2 separate regions of the Homo sapiens genome follow, and region 1 is linked to region 2. The links come from fine-mapping of genetic effects on gene expression. A gene starts in region 2. The other region holds a variant in brackets. All regions are shown on one strand. Distances are between the middles of the regions.

Region 1 (9,205 bases), 51 kb after region 2:
CATGCTTTTCAGGGATGCAATCTGATGGTTGCTAACTCATAGATGCAAACAATAATTACTTTCTTGGACCTGCGTCTCATCAGAGTAGAGAAGGTTCACTGATAAAAATGCTGGTAATTGGTATAGAGATTAAAGGAGAATCACTCATAGACTCCTGTTGTTTGCAAATGTTTTGGTGATTGAACCACATCTTGACTATTATATGGGATCATATTGCTGATTGATGGACTGGGAAGTGGAGCTCCCATTGACTGCCTGTTTATTTTGGGTATCCTTAAACCTGTTTTTCCAGTGGTATAAGGTTATATTCTGGGCCCCCAAGCAAGAGTTTCAGTGAGGGGTGCTCTTAATGTTTCTGAACCTCACTGTAACGGACTTTTACTGAAGACAGTATTGGAGACCCAAGGATAATGTGTTTATTTTGGAATTACTTAAGCTTAGTAACCTTAACAAACTTAGCTTGAAAGTAACAGTTACACTTTCATAAGTCCCATACAGCTCCCTTTTGTAATGACCCGAGGAAACACTTATGGTTCCACTGATTCATCTCCTGGGGACCATCAGTTTTCCATTGGTCTCTGGCCAGTCTTTTTTAGACAGTTTCTCTTCTATGCATTTAAAAAAATAACATTTCTAGGCGTCTTTCTATAAATAATACCTGTGCTTTGTAGAAGTTTTAAAAGAAGTAGAAAACATAAGAAAAGGAACCTACTATCCAGACATAATCACCTTAAACATTGTGGTGTATATATGCACCCCGCCCCCCCTGCCCCCACATACTCCCATATATCTTTTTTTTTTTTTTAAATGTTTGGATGAAGGTGTTTAAAACTAAACTGGGATCATATTCTACATTTTTCATTTAATAGTTGTAAATATGATTAAACACTAGTTATATTCCACCCTACTTCTAAAAAGGTGGTAAGTGGAACCTTTTTTTCTGTATAATTTTTTTGAGAGATATTTGTTTTCTTATAGTTTTATAGCTTGTTAATAAAAGAATTTAGAATTTTAAAATACAAACTGAGGAAAGTAAAAGCTTTTCTCAGGTGTCAAAATTCTTATAAGTGGGTACATGTAGGTGAGAGTCTAAATCAGGGTAAGAATGATGGGCAGAATTGCTAATTAAGGTCTTATTTCTTGTTTACATGTGTCTAGAATAATTTATTTTTCAGGGAGCTGTCTGGTGAAATTTAAGCCATTCATTTCCACAGCTTAAATTTTTTCAGGCATGTTTGCATTTCAGGGGGCTGAGCCAAGGAGGGGGACAGTCAGTTTATTAGCAGTGGTGTGACCAGTGTATTGGACTTTCAAATAGGGCACAACTGCATGGCATCGTCCCCTGGTGGCTGTGGCCTAGGGCAAGCCACAAAGCCACTCAGTGATGATGCCAGCAGTTGTGCCCTACTTAACCTCTCTGGGTCTCACATTTCCTTATCTGTAAAATTGGGTGAGTAATAGTTTTTGTTTTTTTTTTTTGAGATGGAATTTTGTTCCTGTTGCCCAGGCTGAGTGCAATGGCACGATCTTGGCTCGCTGCAACCTCTGCCTCCAGGGTTCAAGCAATTCTCTTGCCTCAGCCTCCCAAGTAGCTGAGATTACAGGTGCCTGCCACCACGCTCGGCTAATTTTTGTATTTTAGTAGAGACGGGTTTCACCATGGGTCAGGCTGGTCTTGAACTCCTGACCTCAAGTGATCCACCCACCTTGGCCTCCCAAAGTGCTGGGATTACAGGTGTGAGCCACCGTGCCCAGCCGAGTAATTGTTTTTATTTGATGGAAGCATGAGTTTGAGATAATATAAGATTAAATGAGATACTGTATGATTAGCAAATAGCAGGTGTTAGTAAATGGGAATTCTCCTCCCATGTGTCTTCAAGTCTATATCACCCTTAGAGTTACCTAAATTGGATTATACTTGGTTTGATACTATGAGGTATTAGGAACTAACCTCACTTTAAACAATCGGGTGGCTAAGTTTTTATATTCTGTAAATTTTGAGGAATGTCTGAAGTTTTAGACATGGGCTGATTTTAGGAGAGAGATTGTTGTACTGAGTGAAGCTTAAAACTCAGATTTTGGTTAGCGTAAATAGATTTTACATCGTGGATTTTAATCTAACATTTCATGTATACATTTTGGTGTGTTGAAATAGTTGACATATTTGTAAATTTTAATGTCTCATTATATTTCACTACATTGATGTTTCATGATTTGTGGTGTATGGTCTTGAGAAAGTAGCCTTTAGAGTAGATACAATATTGAATTTGACTTTTAAAAAATCTTATAAGAATTTTCAAATGTACCCCAGAGTATACTGGTATAATAAATCCTCATGTATTCTCACCCAGCTATGACAGTCATCAATCATAGCCACTCTTGTTTCCCCTGTTATCCCCCCTTCCACTATTATTTTGAAGCAAATTTTAGATACCGTATTATGAAATAGAATTACGGTGCGTGAAATTTGTCAGCTTGGCCTTCCTACCGATTTGTATGTGGATATATTCTTAATTTCCTGCTTTGAATTGAAGTTTACCCTTTCATATTTGATCAAGTCAGCTTTAATTGTATCAAGTGTCGGTCTACTTTAAATTCCTATCAGTGATAGTGAACTTCATTTTATTTAAGACTATTAGAAATTTTTTGTCAGTACATATTTAAAGCACAGTGTGGTGGCTTCTAAAGTAAGGTGTCCATCAGGGCAGTTGCTAGTGCTTGTTTTAAAAAATTAATTTAGAAATCTGACTGGTTAAATCTGAGTCTGATTTTCCCTTTTTCTTTGAATTTTAGGAAATAAAGTTTTATACTCTCTTGTACCTCAGTGTTGTTTCTGTGTGTGGATGGGTGTTGGGAGGAGCTGGGCTGATTTAAGCTAGTCCTGTCCCTGTATGCATGTACATTTCATGCTTGAGGTTTATTGGCTTGAAAAAGACCAGAAACTGTAGGTTAGGATTTTTCCTCTTAAAGCATATTGAGCAGTCATAGGTTGAGCATTTTACAAAGCATGCAGATACCCTCCTTTGTGTTTTAATAATCAAATGACAGGCGTAAGATAACTAAGTTCAACTTGAATATTAAAAGCTGTAGTCCATTTCTTCTTTATATGTTTAATGACTATATAGTTATTTGGCTAAATTAATTTTTTTCTGTGCTTAAGTTAATTTTTGTACAATTTATGTCCATATTTGCTTGGAACCTTAGCGCAATATTTGAGCCAGAAGACTTGCAAAGCTTGAGCTAAATGAAATAAAATTGTTGGCATTAAAGGAAAGCTAACAACTTTGAAGTTTTAAAATCTCTGATGGTTTGAGTATAAGAAATGACTCCATTGGATGAGGTGAGGTAATTCCAAGATACAGGGTACTGATAATACTAAACGTACCTTGATGACTAATTAAGCAGTTTCTGAGTATAGGTATTATGCTGTAAAACCAAACTGGAAATGGACTATCCATGGAGCATAGTGTATAGCTGAGTTATCAATGAAAATGTTAATTCGTATGATTAATTTTTAAAAAGCATTATATGTATTAATTTGAAATTCTTTGCTGTTAAGGTTTTGGAATGTGTGTTTGAATCCAAATGTGATTGGAGTATGTAATAATGGGTATTCTTAGAACATGCTGAATTGTTTTACTTTTTTGGAGACAGGGTCTTTCTCTGTTGACCAGGCTGGAGTGCAGTGGCGCGATCATGGCTCACTGCTGCCTCCAACCTCTCAGGCTTGGGTGATTCCCGCCTCAGTCTCCCAAGTAGCTGGAACCACAGGCATGTGCCACTATGTCTGGCTAATTTTTGTATTTTTTGAGAGACAGTGTTTCACTCTATTGTCCAGGTTGGTCTCGAACTCCTGGGCTCAAGCGATCCACCTGCCTTGGCCTCCCAAAGTGCTAGGATTACAGGTGTGAACCACTGTTGCCTGGCTGAACATGTTAAATTATAGAAGAAGGAACTTGAATGTAACTTGATGGATTTAGTTGTTCATATCTTATTGGAAATGAGGACTTTTTGGTAGATATAGTTGAGAAAACAACTGATACCTAGCTTGTGTAATGACTCTGGCTGAAACAGAGTTTGACATCCTAATTGCCTGTTAGAATCATTTGGGAGTTTTTAAGGACACAAAGATCTGAGACCATTTAAATCAGAGTCTCTGGAGTTAGGGCACTGGTGCTGGTAGATTTTAAAAACTCCACTGGCAATTCTGAAGTTTAGCTGTGGTTGAAAACCACTGGCGTAAAAAGACATACTCCAGAAATATTTGAAGTGGAAGAGAGTGAGTACAAATTATTGTCTTCTTTCCTTGATGGTGTTGTAAAATTTATGTGGTGGAAGTTTTGTCTTTTTTTTTTTTTTTTTTTTTTAAACTCTAACTCCATCCCACTACTGCCTTTCTAGAACTTAGAAA[G/A]TACTGCTTTTGATTTCTGGGGAAAAGTATTTTTGCATTTTGTATCCAGAAGAATTGAAGATGAGGAATTTTTTTTTCTCCTGTGGAGGTAATGTTTCTACTCCTTGTATACCTTATTTTTATAATATCCTTACTGAGATATAAATTACATACCATAAAGTTAAGACAATTTAAAGTGTATAGTTCAGTGGCTTTTAGTAAATTGACATAGTTGTGCAACCATTATTGGAACATTTACATCACCTCAGAAAGAGATTCTGTATCAGCAGTTACTCCTCATTCCCCCCAACCTGCTCACCCCTAGGAAACCATTAATCTACTTTTTGTATCAATAGATTTGCCTATTTTGGATATTTCACATAAGTGGAATCATGTAATATGTGGTCTTTTGTGATGGGCTTCTTTTACTTAACATAATGTTTTCAAAGTTCATCCATGTAGTAGTATATATTAGTATTTGTTTTTATGGCTGAGTACCATTCCATTGTGTGGATAATACCACATTTTATTTATCCATTTATCAGTTGATGGATATTTGGGTTGCTTCTACTTTTACCTATTATGAATAATGTTGCTATGAACATTCGTGTACAGGTTTTCGTGTGGACATGTTTTCATTTCTCTTGGGAAATACTGGGAGTGGAATTACTTAGATACTTCCTTCACCTCATTTGAACTTCAGGGTTAGAAAATCTTCCCATAGAGTTGGGAAGCACCGCGAGTCCATGTTCTAACGCTATTTTTACACTGTAGGACAGAGGTCCAGTGTGTGTTGTTTGGTCTTGTGGTCCACAAGGGGCAAACTCCTCACTTAAAAGAAGGACCAGCTGTTTTTCCTTGCTGTGTTTCCAGGAAAGGGTCCACATAGACTTATATTGAAGTTGGAATTTTAATGAAGCTTTTAAAGCCTCATCCTTTTACTCCCTTAGTTGTTAGGGAAAAGAGCAAAATGTTTGAACTCTTAGTATCTGGAAAATAATAATGGTAATCAGACCTGACATTTGTTGACTGCTTATTCTGTGCCAGGCACTGGACAGCTGAGGCTTTTTATGTCTATGATCTTATTTAAGCTTCATAACAACTTGTAGCAATGACTGCCATTTTACTGATGGAGAAATGGAGACACATAGGTTAAATAACTTGCATCAGCTCAAAACAGCTGGGCAGCAATGCTGGGTTGTAAGAGTGACTCACTCTTACCCCGCTGTACTGTACTGCCTGCCTTCAACCAGTATATCCTAACTCCCTTAGGAGACATATAATCATTGCCATGGAACTTGGTTTGATTTATCAGAGGTTCATTTATAAAGGAAATTAACAGTTTTCATGAATTTATTGTTCAAGTAAATTGCAGAGGAATAAAAGCTTAACTTTTATAAAAATCTGAAGAAATGAATGGTTTTAAAGGAGCTTCTTCATTTAAATTAATTTTAGATCCATCTCATGTTTGTAAGGCACATAACATGCAGTGTTACTCGCCTGCCTCCACCTCCCATGGGCTTGACTTAGACTTTTTTTTTTTTTTTTTGAGATGGAATCTTGCTCTGTTGCTCAGGCTGGAGTGCAGTCGCCTGATCTTGGCTCATTGCAACCTCCGCCTCCTGGGTGTAAGTGATTCTCCTGTCTCAGCCTCCCGAGTAGCTGGGACTACAGGTATGCACCACCATGCCTGGCTAAATTTTGTATTTTTAGTAGAGATGGGGGTTTTGTCATGTTGGCCAGGCTGGTCTCGAACTCCTGACCTCAGGTGATCTGCCCACCGTGGCCTTCCAAAGTGCTGGGATTACAGTTGTGAGCCACTGCACCTGGCCATATTTTTAAAAGTTCTATTTTAATTGACAAATAATAATTGCATATGTTTATGGAGTAAGATGTGATTTTTTCCATACACATATGTGAAGTGATTAAATCAGCTAATTAACATATTAATCCCCTCAAATACATACCACTTCTTTGTGGAGAGAATATTTAAAATCCTTTTTTTTTTTTTTTTTGCTATGGAGTCTTGCTGTGTTGTCCAGGCTGGAGTGCAGTGGTGTGATCTAGGTTCACTGCAACCTCTGCCTCCTGGGTTCAAGCGATTCTCCCACCTCAGCCTCTGGAGTAGCTGGGACTACAGGCGTGTGCCACCTTGCCTAGCTAATTTTTGTATTTTTAATAGAGATGGCGTTTCACCATCTTGGCAAGGCTGGTCGTGAACTCCTAACCTCAAGTGATCCATCCACCTCAGCCTCCCAAAGTGTTGGGATTACAGGTGTGAGCCACCATGCCCAGCCTAAAAATCCCTTCTTTTAGCTATTTTGAAATAAACATGATTCTGTGATTACCATGCTATGTAATAGATCACCAGAACCTATTCTTCCGTCTAACTGAAACTTTGTACCTTTGACCAACATCTCCCCTTTCCCTATCTACCCTTTACCCCAGTATCCTCTGGTAGCCACCATTGTACTCTCTACTTCTATGAGATTAACATTTCTAGATTCCATATACAAGTTAACATCATATGATATTTGGCTTTCTGTGCCTGGCTTATCATAGTTAGCAGAATGTCCTCTGTGTCCATCTGTTGTTGCAAATAACAGGATTTCCTGTTTTTTAAAGACTGAATAGTATTCCGTTTTATGTGTATACCATATTTTAAAAATCCGTGTCTTGGCTGTTGTGGATAATGCTGTAAAGAACGTGGAAGTGCAGACATCTCTTTGACATACTGATTTCAATTCCTTTGGATATGTATAGCCAGAAGTGGAATGGCTGGATTGAATGATAATTCTGTTTTCAGTTTTTTGAGGAACCTCCATACTGTTTTCCATAATGGCTGTACTAATTTACAATACCACCAACAGTGAACAGGGGTTCTCTTTTCTCCACATCCCTTGCCAACACATACTGTTTTTCATTTTTTTAAATAACCAGTCTAACAGGTGTAAGGTAATACCTTATTGTGGTTTTGATTTGCATTTCTCTGATGATTAGAGATGTTAAGCATTTTTTTCATGTACCTGTTGACCACTTGTATGTCGTCTTTTGAGAAATGTCTATTCAGGTCCTTTCCCCATTTTAAAAATAGGGTTACTTGTTTTTTATTGAGTAGTTTGAATTTTTTTGTTTGTTTGTATATTTTGGATATTAACCCCTTATCCAGGCCGGGAGTGGTGGCTCACACCTGTAATCCCAGCACTTTGTAAGGTCTTGTTCTTTTTTTTTTTTTTTTTTTTTTTGAGACAGAGCCTCCTTCTGTCGCCAGGCTGGAGTGCAGTGGTGCGATCTGTGCTCACTGCAACCTCTACCTCCTGGGTTCAAGCTATTCTGCTGCCTCAGCCTCCCGAGTAGCTGGGACTACAGGCGCCCGCTACCATGCCCGGCTAATTTTTATATTTTTAGTAGAGACGGGATTTCACTGTGTTGGCCAGAATGGTATTGATCTCTTGATCTCATGATAGACCCACCTCAGCCTCCCAAAGTGCTGGGATTACAGGCATGAGCCGCCATGCCTGGCCTACTCTATGCCTTTTGATTGGGGAATGTAATCCATTTACAGAGTAATTATTGATAGGTGAGGACTTAACCAGTGCCAATTGTTTTCTGTTTATAGATCCTTTGTTCTATTCCTCCTCTCTTGCTTGTGTGTGTGTGTATGTTGTGTGTGTGTGTGTGTGTGTGTGTGTGTGTGTGTCTTAATGGCTTTCTGTAGTGGTATGCTTTGGATTTTATCTTTTTATCTCTTGTCTGTCTGTTACAGACTTTTGCTTTGTGGTTAACTTGAGGCTTACATAAAACAGCTTATATAACGGTATTTTAAGTTGATAACAACTTAATTTTAATTGCATACACAAACTATACACTTTTACACCCCTTTCTCCCATATTTTGTATTTCTGATGTTATACTTAAAATTTTTATATAATATTTATTCCCTTAACAAATTGTTGCACTTCAGTTGTTAATAGTTTTGCCTTTTAACCTTTATACTAGAGATATAATTGATTTACTCACTGCCATTAGAGTATTAGAATGTTTGGATATGACAATGTATATACCATGCCCTGGCCTGGATAAGGGGTTAATATCCAAAATATACAAAAAAAGTTTTATACTTTAATAAATTTTCATGTTATTAATTAGTGTTCTCTTCCTTCAGCTTGAAGAACTCCTTTTAGCATTTCCTGTAATGCAGGTCTAGTGGTGATAAAGTTAGCTATTGATTGAAAAAGTCTTTATCATCCATTTGGTTTTGAAATACAGGGTTGCTGGGTATAGTATTCTTGGTTGGCAGTTTTTTTTTCTCTCTCTTTCTTCTCTTTCTTTTTCTTTCTTCTCTCTCCTCTCCTGCCCTGTCCTGTCCCTGTCTCTCTTTCTTTTCTTTTCCTTCCTTCCTTCTTTTCTTTTCTTTTCCTTCCTTCCTTTTCTTTTCTTTTCTTTTTTTTCTATTTTTAAATATATCATCCCACTCCCTTCTGGCCTGAAAGGTTTCTGCTGAGAAGCTATCTGATAGTCTTATGGAGGTTCCTTTATACATGGTGATATGCTTTTTTCTTGCAGTTTTCAATACTCTGCCATTAGTTTTTGACATTTTAATTGTGATGTGTCTTGGTGGGTCTCTTTGAATTTATCTTATTTGGTGTCTTTTGGGCTTCCTGGATCTAGCTTTCCATTTCCTTCCCCAGCCTTGGGAATTTTTCTGCCATTATTTATTTGAATATGTTAGTTGTTCTTTTCTCCTTCTGGCACCTGATAATGCATAAGTTGTTCTCCATGATGGTGTCCCATAAGTCTCTTAAGTCACTCTTTT
Region 2 (9,205 bases):
TAACGATGCGTTTCTCAGAATGTATCCCTGTCATTGACACATGACTGCATTTGCAAAGCAGGACAGTATTTTTATTTAAATTATTATGCATGTTTATTTGGGGAGATGATGAAGATTGTGAGAGTCATTAATCCTGCCTCTAAACTATGCCTTGCTGTTGCCATAGGCTTTTGCCCCTAATTTTAGCCCTTTCCTGCATAGTTTCTTGGTGGTGAAAAAACTGGATGAAAGGGAAACTAGAATTTTGATTACTTTCTCTGCTAAGTAAATGTCAATCCATTCAGAACCAGCTACCCAGAGAGGGGTGAGGGGTAGGGAAATGGGGACAATGCAACCTAAAAATCCTCCTGCTAACATCTCTGGTTCCCCTTTGTAAGTTGGATGGACTTCTAACCTCTTTTTCCTGAGCCAGAGTTTCCCAAATTGTGTTTCCTGAGTGTCAATGGATATATAACACAAAAGGTTTTTAGGGTCAAATTAGTTTGGAAATGCTATATAGTAAGTCCTCATTTTTATCATTGTTAGGTTTTTGGAAACTGCAACTTTAAGCAAAAGGATGTATCATGTAATCAATTTTACCATAGGCTAATTGATATAAACAAGAGTTAAGTTTCTATGGCATATTTCTGGTCACAAAACATCAACGAACTTCTAAACAAAGACCAAAACACTTCTAATATTAAACATTGAAATAAGTGTAAGCTATGCATACATTTAAGAAAGATTAGGCTGGGCACGGTGGCTCATACCTGTAATTTCAGCACCTTGGGAGGTCAAGGGGGGCAGATCACTTGAGCTCAGGAGTTTGAGACCAGCCTGGGCAACATGGTGAAACCCCATTTCTACAAAAAAATACAAAACTTAGCCAGGCATGGGGGTGCACGCCTGTAGTCCCAGCTACTCGGGAGGCTGAAGTTGGAAGATTGCTTGAGCCAGTGGGGTGGGGGTCAAGGCTGCAGTGACCCGAGACTGTGGCACTGCACTCCAGCCTGCACAGAGTGAGACTCTGTCTCAAAGAAAAGAAAAGAAAAGAAAGATTAATAAAAACAAGAAATGTACTCCCGCTTATTCCAGTTCAGGGTTACAGGTGGCCGGAGCCTATCCTGGCACAAGGCAGGAATCAGTTCTGGACAGCACACAGGACACCATCCCATTGCAGGGCACACTCACACACCCTGACACTCACTCAGACTGCAGGCTTGCAAATGAACCTCACCTGCACAGCTTTGGGATGTGGGAGGAAACCAGGGTATCTGGAAGAAACCCACACAGACAGTGGCCCTGGCCTCAAGCGGATTTTTTTTTTTTTTTGAGATGAGGTCTCGCCCAGGGTGGAGTGCAGTGGTGTGATCATGGCTCACTGCAGCCTCGACCACCCAGGCTCAAGTGATCCTCCCATCTCAGCCTCATGGGTAGCTGGGATCACAGGTGTGCACCACCATGCCCAGCTAATTTTTAATATTTTTGTAGGGATGGGGTCTCACTATGTTGCTCAGGCTGGTCTCAAACTCCTGGGCTCAAGCAATCCTCCTGCCTTGGCCTCCCCGAGTGTTGGAATTACGGGCATGAGCCACCATGCCTGGACTCATCAATGTTATCATGAAACGATCTTGCACAAAATGATGTTATTCAAGGATCTGCTGTATTAACAAAGGAGTGTATTAGCTTCCTAGGGCTGCCACAAGAAAGCACAATAAACTAAGTGGCTTAAAACAAGAGAAATGTATTCTCTTACAGTTCTGGAGGCTGGGAGTCCAAAATCAAAGTGTCAGCAGGGCTGGCTCCTTCTTGGGGCTCAGAGGGAGAATGTGTTCCATGCCTTCTCCTGGCTTCTGGTGGCTGCCAGAATCCTTGGCATTCCTTGGCTTGGAGCTGCATCACTCCAATCTCTGCCTCTTTCTTCCCATGATATTCCCCCTGTGTGTCTGTATCTTTTTTCTTCTCCACTTATAAGGACACTACTCATTGGATTTAGGGACAACCTACTCCAGTATGATCTCATTTTAACTTGATTACATCTGCAAAGACTCTATTTCCAAATAAGGTCACATTTACAGGTAGCAGGGGTTAGGACTTGAACATATCTATTTGGGGGGAATACAATTCAACTCTCAACAGGGAGAAACAGATTTTTTCATCTGACAGCTTCTTACAGGCTTTAATTTCAGTGACTCTGCAAGAGGGGAGGACATAAAAACCATGTTTTTTTTTATTTTTTGTTTTTTTTTAAATGGAGTATTTTATGTAACTGGTGTTCTAAGGAACATGTTTGGGGAAAAATGCCTTGGGTGAGTGAGACTATTTAGCAGTGGCCACTCACTTTACCAAAGATTCACAGTGACTGACCATATAGTCTGGTTGCCTAACGATAGATGCTTCTTATGGCTGTCCCTCAAGAGATTGTTGGCAGTCCCTGTGGCCTCTTTGTAAGGGTTCCCATACCTGGCTGGTGAGGCTGCAGTAGTATGGTGGGGGAGGCTGGCCAAGCAGGCCATCCTGGAGAACAGTGTGTTTGTGTTCTGATGTTTGTGGCTACAGTGCTCTGGTTTCAGACATCCTGGAACTTCCATGATGTTGCATTTTTCTGAATTCTGAAAGGGAATATACAATCTGCATGTTCAAAGGTGAAATGAGGGACAGTTGACAGGGCTGTTTTACCTGGATGAGTAAGTTGTACAATGCATGTCTCTAGGGGTGGAATTCACATAGTGGAGATGGTAGATCCAATTTTCTTGTAATAGAGTGCCCTGTTCTCAGAACACCAGTATTTTGTGACAATTTTCCAGCATGTGGCATAAAGTGTCTTGAGGAAGGGGCACCTTTTTCTAGTTCTCACAAAAGTAACATATGGTAAAGAGGTGGCCCTGAGTGGGAGGGAGAAGCCTTCATCAACTCTTGGAATGTGAGATCTGAAAGGCCTCTGACAGAGTATTGGTCCATCTCTGGAATTGTTAGGACTCTTCCTTACAAATAATAGAAACCCAATTCCAAGTGGCTAACACAAATAGGAAACTAATAATCAGAATGCAAGGACAGGAATGCAGCTGGGACTCAGGAACATGCTGGATCCAGGTACTCTGACATGGTCAGGACTTACATCTCTCTCTTTACCTGCTTTTTTCCCTTAGTCCAAAACATGGTGGTAGACAACTCCTGGGTGTCACGTGTTGGATGTTCAGCAGTCAGTAGAGACTGACCTCCTCTATGCTCCAGTGTTAAAATCTCGAAGACCTAGTATTTGATAGCACAACAGGGTGACTATAGTAAAAAATAATTTAATTGTACATTTAAATTAACTAAAAGATTATAATTGGATTGTTTGTAAAACAAAAGATAAACACTTGAGATGATGGATACCCCATTTACCCTGATGTGATTATTATGTGTTGTATGCCAGTATCAAAATATCTCATGTACCCCATAAATATGTGTGTACTATGTACCCACAAAAATTAAATATAACAAATTAAAAAAAAACCGCCCCATTACAGGAGAGGTCCAAATGAAAACATTTTGTTTGAGTTTAACTGGCCACAGGTCCAATGGTTTCTTATACACCACACAGTGGGTAAACAGCTCAAGGGCGGGCTGCCCGCCAGCATAAACCTTTGAGTGGCAAACACTACCAGGGTGGCCATGGAAAATGCCCTCTTGCTGACCATAATTGCACAGAATGTGTGTAAATAAAAGCTAAAAGGAAAAAGAAAATTCTGTAGCTCTTCCAGAAGAGGCAAACGGAGAAATGAAGAAATATAAAGAGATAGGCACTATATAAATACTAAGTACTATAAATAGGGCATTTCCCAACCCACTAAATATTTTGATATTTTCCAGGGATGGAGCCAGAGATGTTCTGGAAGGATGAAGGAGACTGCATGAGTAATTGGGGTGGGGTAGCAGAGAGTTTGCCAATCCCTACCTCACTGGGTTTTAGTTATGTTTCAGTTAATCTGCCTCCTCATTTACGAGGCGGGTATTGTTAGCTCCACTTTTCAGATGAGGATACTGAGATTCAGTAAGGTTATTACCCAAACTTATGAGAAAGCCAAGATTTCACAATATTTCAACCCAACTCGACTTTGTCTAATACCAGTGCGTACCAATGGCATTATTAATCCAGACTGGGCGATGAATTAAAAACTCTGACGTGACGTTTCTGCAGGTTTCTGGAAGAAGCCTGGATCACCTGGGGACGGGGTGAAGTTGGCGTTGCCCTCCTTGCAGTAATAGCTGCTATTGTTTTGCAGCAGTTATTATGGATCAGATACTGTGCTGGGTCTATGATCTCATTTAGCCCTTACGACAATCCTGTGAGGTTGGCATTACTATGATCTCTATTTTACAGGTTAGGAAACTGAGCCTTAAATAAACTACTGGATTTTCCTGAGTATTCTGTGAATAAATTCCTATTACTGAAATACTTGAAAGGGCTAGATTAATAAATTAACAAAGCCTTCTTCGGAGCAACTGTGCTGAAATTCCGTACGCGTGACGTTCCCACCCTCTGCCACTCGGTGACGTCACGATCAATCCCACCACTAAGTTCCCAGCCAAGCGCTACCGCCGCTATCTCGCGAGAGCCGTAGTTTCTTCCATTCTGTTTTGGACATGCGCGGGGCGTAAGGCGCTTTGGCCAGAGTGGTTTGATGGTTTTGTGTTAGTCTTCCTGCAGCTGAGCTTCCACAAGACACTTTTTCCCTTTCAGCCACCCAATATCTCGCGAGACTTGCTATTCTGCGCCCCCTCCCACCTTGCGCTTGCGCAGATCTTCAAAGCAGAAGGTCGCGCTTGGAGGAAGTGGCGGCTTTGAGTCCGGTGGCCCAATCGCTGTTACTACTTCTCTGAAGCTCCTCTCGGCTGCTTGCCGAGACACCCTGCCGCCAAGATGCCTCGAATTATGATCAAGGGGGGCGTATGGAGGAATACCGAGGTAAGTCTCCTTTTCCCGCCGTCCGCTGCCCGCCGCTCCCTCTAGCAGCTTGTGCGCACGCGCGCGGAGGTCGGGGGGGCGACGAGGAGACCCTGTGGGGTCTGCGTGGAGGGCAGCCCGGGGGCTGACCCTTGGGGCCCTTTCCGTGTGTCTGGCCCCGTGTTGTGCGAGCGCCAGTAGGACAGGGACCGTGATGTCACCACCTGGCTACTCGGCTCCAAGCTCACTTGTTAGGCCCTGAGTGAACATTTGTTGACTTGAATACGCCCCCTCCCACCCCGCCCCCCCGCCCCCCCCGGCCCCGGGAAGAACTCAGAGTTCCAACTCAGCCAGAGTTGGTCCCCCGGGGCACCATCCACTCTTAGTCCAGGCACCACGACTCTGTCTCATACTCAGAAATAAAGAAGTTGCCGTGGCCACAACTTTGTGTCTCCATTGACTTCCTTGCAGAGGGGAAGCAGTTTGAGTGCCAGGTTCAGAGAGCCCGTTTATGCCCGCATCTCTCTGGTTATCTGTTATCAGGGCATAACCTGTCTGCCATCTCGACAGATCCCAAGGTCTGTCTCTTTCTGTCACTGCCTTTGCCTAGATAGAAGCCAGAAAGGAAAAACTGGCCTAGGATAGTCTCTGTTTCCAGAAACGTAGTGGATAGTGCCATTGGTGAGCCAAAGGGCAGTAGAGTGGGAGTGAAATAGAAATTAGATTTTAGTGCGTTTTGTGTTCAGAGTGTACCGAATTTATCAGTTTCTGGAGCACATCATGTCTTTTCATGCTCTGTGTCTTTTTTTCGTTACATTTTATGGCTTCTTTTTTTTTTTTTTTTTACATCTTTTGCCTTCCTAGCGCTTGACATCTTTCTGATCATCCTTCAAACCTAGTTCGGAAACACTTCTTGGAATCTCTGTAAGAATTAATTGCACCCCCGATATTCTCATGATACCTTTTTCTTCCGTTTGTTAAAACTTGCTTTGTCTTTTTGTAAGCATCACATCCTCTGTGTGGTACTCGGTAAGTTTCTTAACTTCTGAAAGCCTCAGTTTTCTACTTTTTCTAAATTGGGATAATAATACTTAACCTCTCTTGAGGATTACACGAGTTAATACGTTTGGAATATTTAGATCAGAGTAGGGCACATAGTAGCCTCTGAGTAAGAGCTAGTTGCTCTTTCACCTCACCAGACAGCATGGCGAGAGGACCAGGTCTTGGTATCCCTAGGACCTAGGACAGTAACCAACATGAAGTAGGTTGCTCGACAGGTATTTGCAGAATGAATCAAGTAGAGTAGGTATCTGCTGTATCTATTTAATTGAAAATGTGTTTAAGTGTAGTTGTACTGCAACCAAGTTACAAAAAAGACAATGAAAACTGCCTCAGCTTCCACCGAGGGAACCAGACTGTTTAAATTGGAGAAGAGATGACTTCTGAGGGAGAGACAGATATAAAATCAAGTAACAGTAGGATTCCTATGCAGTGGTCAAAGCTCTGCAGTCTTTTTAAAAAGTATCTTTGATCATGGGAGATGTAGAGGATGGAGTGGGGTATCTCAAGAGGCACGTACCTCAAATCCAATGTGGGAAAAAAAGCCTAGAAGTAAAATCGCCTAAGTGCATGCATCTATGGCTCCATTAACTTTCTTGTCTTTGGCTTGGCTTGCCAGGCTTCCTTGAGGTTGGTGCATTCCACATGGCAATGGGTGCCCTGGTGAAATGGTATCTAGAGATGGGGGGAAATTGGAAGGAGAGCTGACTAGTGGGGTTGGGGTAGAAATATGTAATTCTTAGGTTAGACCTGAGATGTGGATTCTTGGGTCATAGTTGGGGTTAAGGGGCTGGAGGGGAAATGCCATGTATAAACTTGAGACAGGAGGCTTGGATTGGAGAATATATTCACCAGAGTCCCAACTTGCTTCTTGAGGCCTGGATATGTCCTGTTTGATAAGACCTTTCCCCAAGGGAAAGGTAGATGTTTCAAGGTAGATGTTCAGGAAGTGTTTTTTGAGTGAGTGTATAAATGAATGAGTTATACATTTTTGTTGTTGTTGTGTTTTTTAGTTATCCTTTTTGAAGAGAAGGACAGCCACACGTTGAAGAATACTTTTTCTTAATTTTTGTCATAAAGTAGGGTTTCTCAGATTGGGCTGTTCCCACTCCCAATTTATTGGAGAGTGTGGTGTAAGGGTGGGTAGCTGTCTTTCTAAGGGATTTCTTCTTAATTTCTCAATTCTTGGTTGCTGTTATTATAGTTAATGAGGTTTTCATCCTTAGTCTTTTAACCTAGGTGGTGTGTATGTGCATGTTATATGTCTCTTTCTCCAATAGCCCTATCAGAGTTAATTTAAATTTTGTCTTTTCCCACTTGGAGTTTTGTGACTGAATGTACTCTTTGGCAATTTTTTTTAGGATGAAATTCTGAAAGCAGCGGTAATGAAATATGGGAAAAATCAGTGGTCTAGGATTGCCTCATTGCTGCATAGAAAATCAGCAAAGCAGTGCAAAGCCAGATGGTATGTATCAGTTTAATAAGTGGAAAACAGAAAAGGAGCTTAATTATGATGATGGAAAATGTCAACTCTGTGAACCTTATCAAAGAAAGCAGACATTGTAATATAACAAGGCATGGAGTGGGAGATGGAAGTTGGGTGTTTGACTTAGCTGTCACTTGCTTCCTGTGTGGTCTTAGGCAAGCCATTTTTCTATCCCTCTCCCCTGCCCTTGTTTTCTCCCAATTAGGGATAATAATACTTGGTCCTGACTGATAGAGATGTGAGTTGTCATCTAAATGGGTTAATGTATTTGAGAGTGCTTTGTGAAGCATACAAAGTCTACTTTCAGGGACAGATGAGCCCCAGCTTGTAAATTAATTGTGTTCTAAAAGTGCATAAGTTAGCTGTTTTAGAAATTACTTGCTCAAAGAAATAAATGATAAATAATGGCTAATTTTCTAAGTAAGCCTACAGTAGTTGAGTTTCCTCATAATACAGTTGAAATATTATATATTTTATAGTTAATATGTTATATATTATATATTAAACATACTTAATGTTATATATTATATATTAAACATATTTAATATGTTATATATTATATATTAAACATATTTAATATGTTATATATTATATATTAAACATATTTAATATGTTATATATTATATATTAAACATATTTAATATGTTATATATTATATATTAAACATATTTAATATGTTATATATTATATATTAAACATTTAATATGTTATATATTATATATTAAACATATTTAATATGTTATATATTATATATTAAACATATTTAATATGTTATATATTGTATATATTAAACATATTTAATATGTTATATATATTAAAAGATATAAGCCAACTCTGAACCTGTGGTGTCACCTCTTTTTTATTTTTATTTTTTGGGACGGAGTCTTGCTCTGTCGCCCAGGCTGGAGTGCAGTGGCGTGATCTCAGCTCACTGCAAGCTTTGCCTCCCGGGTTCACGCCATTCTTCTGCCATAGCCTCCTGAGTAGCTGGGACTACAGGCTCCTGCCACCATTCCCGGCTAATTTTTTGTATTTTTAGTAGAGACGGAGTTTCGCCGTGTTAGCCAGGATGGTCTTGATCTCCTGACCTCGTGATCCATCCACCTCGGCCTCCCAGAGTGCTGGGATTACAGGCGTGAGCCACCGCGCCCGGCTGGTGTCACCTCTTAAATCATAGGGTAGTGGACACGTGAAGCTATTTAGGGTGTTCTTGGCATGAGTTATTTAGCACCATCCCCAAGTCATGTGGCATTAGGAAAATACTTTGGATTGTATAAGAATGACCTAATTTCCTAGGCACCTGGTTAGGGGAAAGTATCAGAATGTAGAAATTGGCCAGGCGTGGTGGCTCACATCTGTAAGCCTAGCACTTCGGGAGGCCAAGGCTGGGATCACCTGAGGTCAGGAGTTTGAGACCAGCCTGGCCAACATGGTGAAAACCCCGTCTCTTCTAAAAGTACAAAAATTAGCCAGGCGTGGTGGCTACTTGGGAGGCTGAGGTGGGAGGATCGGTTGAACCCAGGAGGTGGAGGTTGTAGTGAGCTGAGATGCTGCCACTGCACTCCAGCCTGGGCGACAGAGTGAGGCTTTTTGAATGTAGAAATTGGCTGTTAAGAGGAAGATGATTTTTAGGCTGAAGAAGTCGTTCTGATTTCTGTTTGTCTTAGTGGTACCAGTTCCTGCTGTCATATTTGGTAGGACTTAAGTCCTGTTTGCCTGCCTGTCATCCAGCTAAGTAGACTGGATGGAAA

Evidence for each region.
Region 1: its variant is fine-mapped to the expression of CDC5L in whole blood (INTERVAL, PIP above 0.99). The same link has a PIP of 0.9 or more in lung.

The regions. Positions count from the first base shown.
Region 1 is chr6:44,434,321-44,443,525 of GRCh38, forward strand. All of the region lies in intron 14 of CDC5L (cell division cycle 5 like), which reads left to right. MIR4642 (microRNA 4642) reads left to right here and starts at 1,321; the gene lies at 1,321-1,402. The variant G/A (reference allele first, on the strand shown) is at 4,412.
Region 2 is chr6:44,382,939-44,392,143 of GRCh38, forward strand. It overlaps CDC5L (cell division cycle 5 like), which reads left to right and starts at 4,768. Exons shown (of 16, transcript NM_001253.4): 1 at 4,768-4,930; 2 at 7,330-7,433. The coding sequence starts at 4,886. LOC124901323 (a long non-coding RNA gene) reads right to left here and starts at 4,981. Exons shown (of 4, transcript XR_007059595.1): 1 at 4,101-4,981; 2 at 3,112-3,231; 3 at 2,443-2,591; 4 at 1,624-2,173. RefSeq lists an enhancer at 4,650-4,849.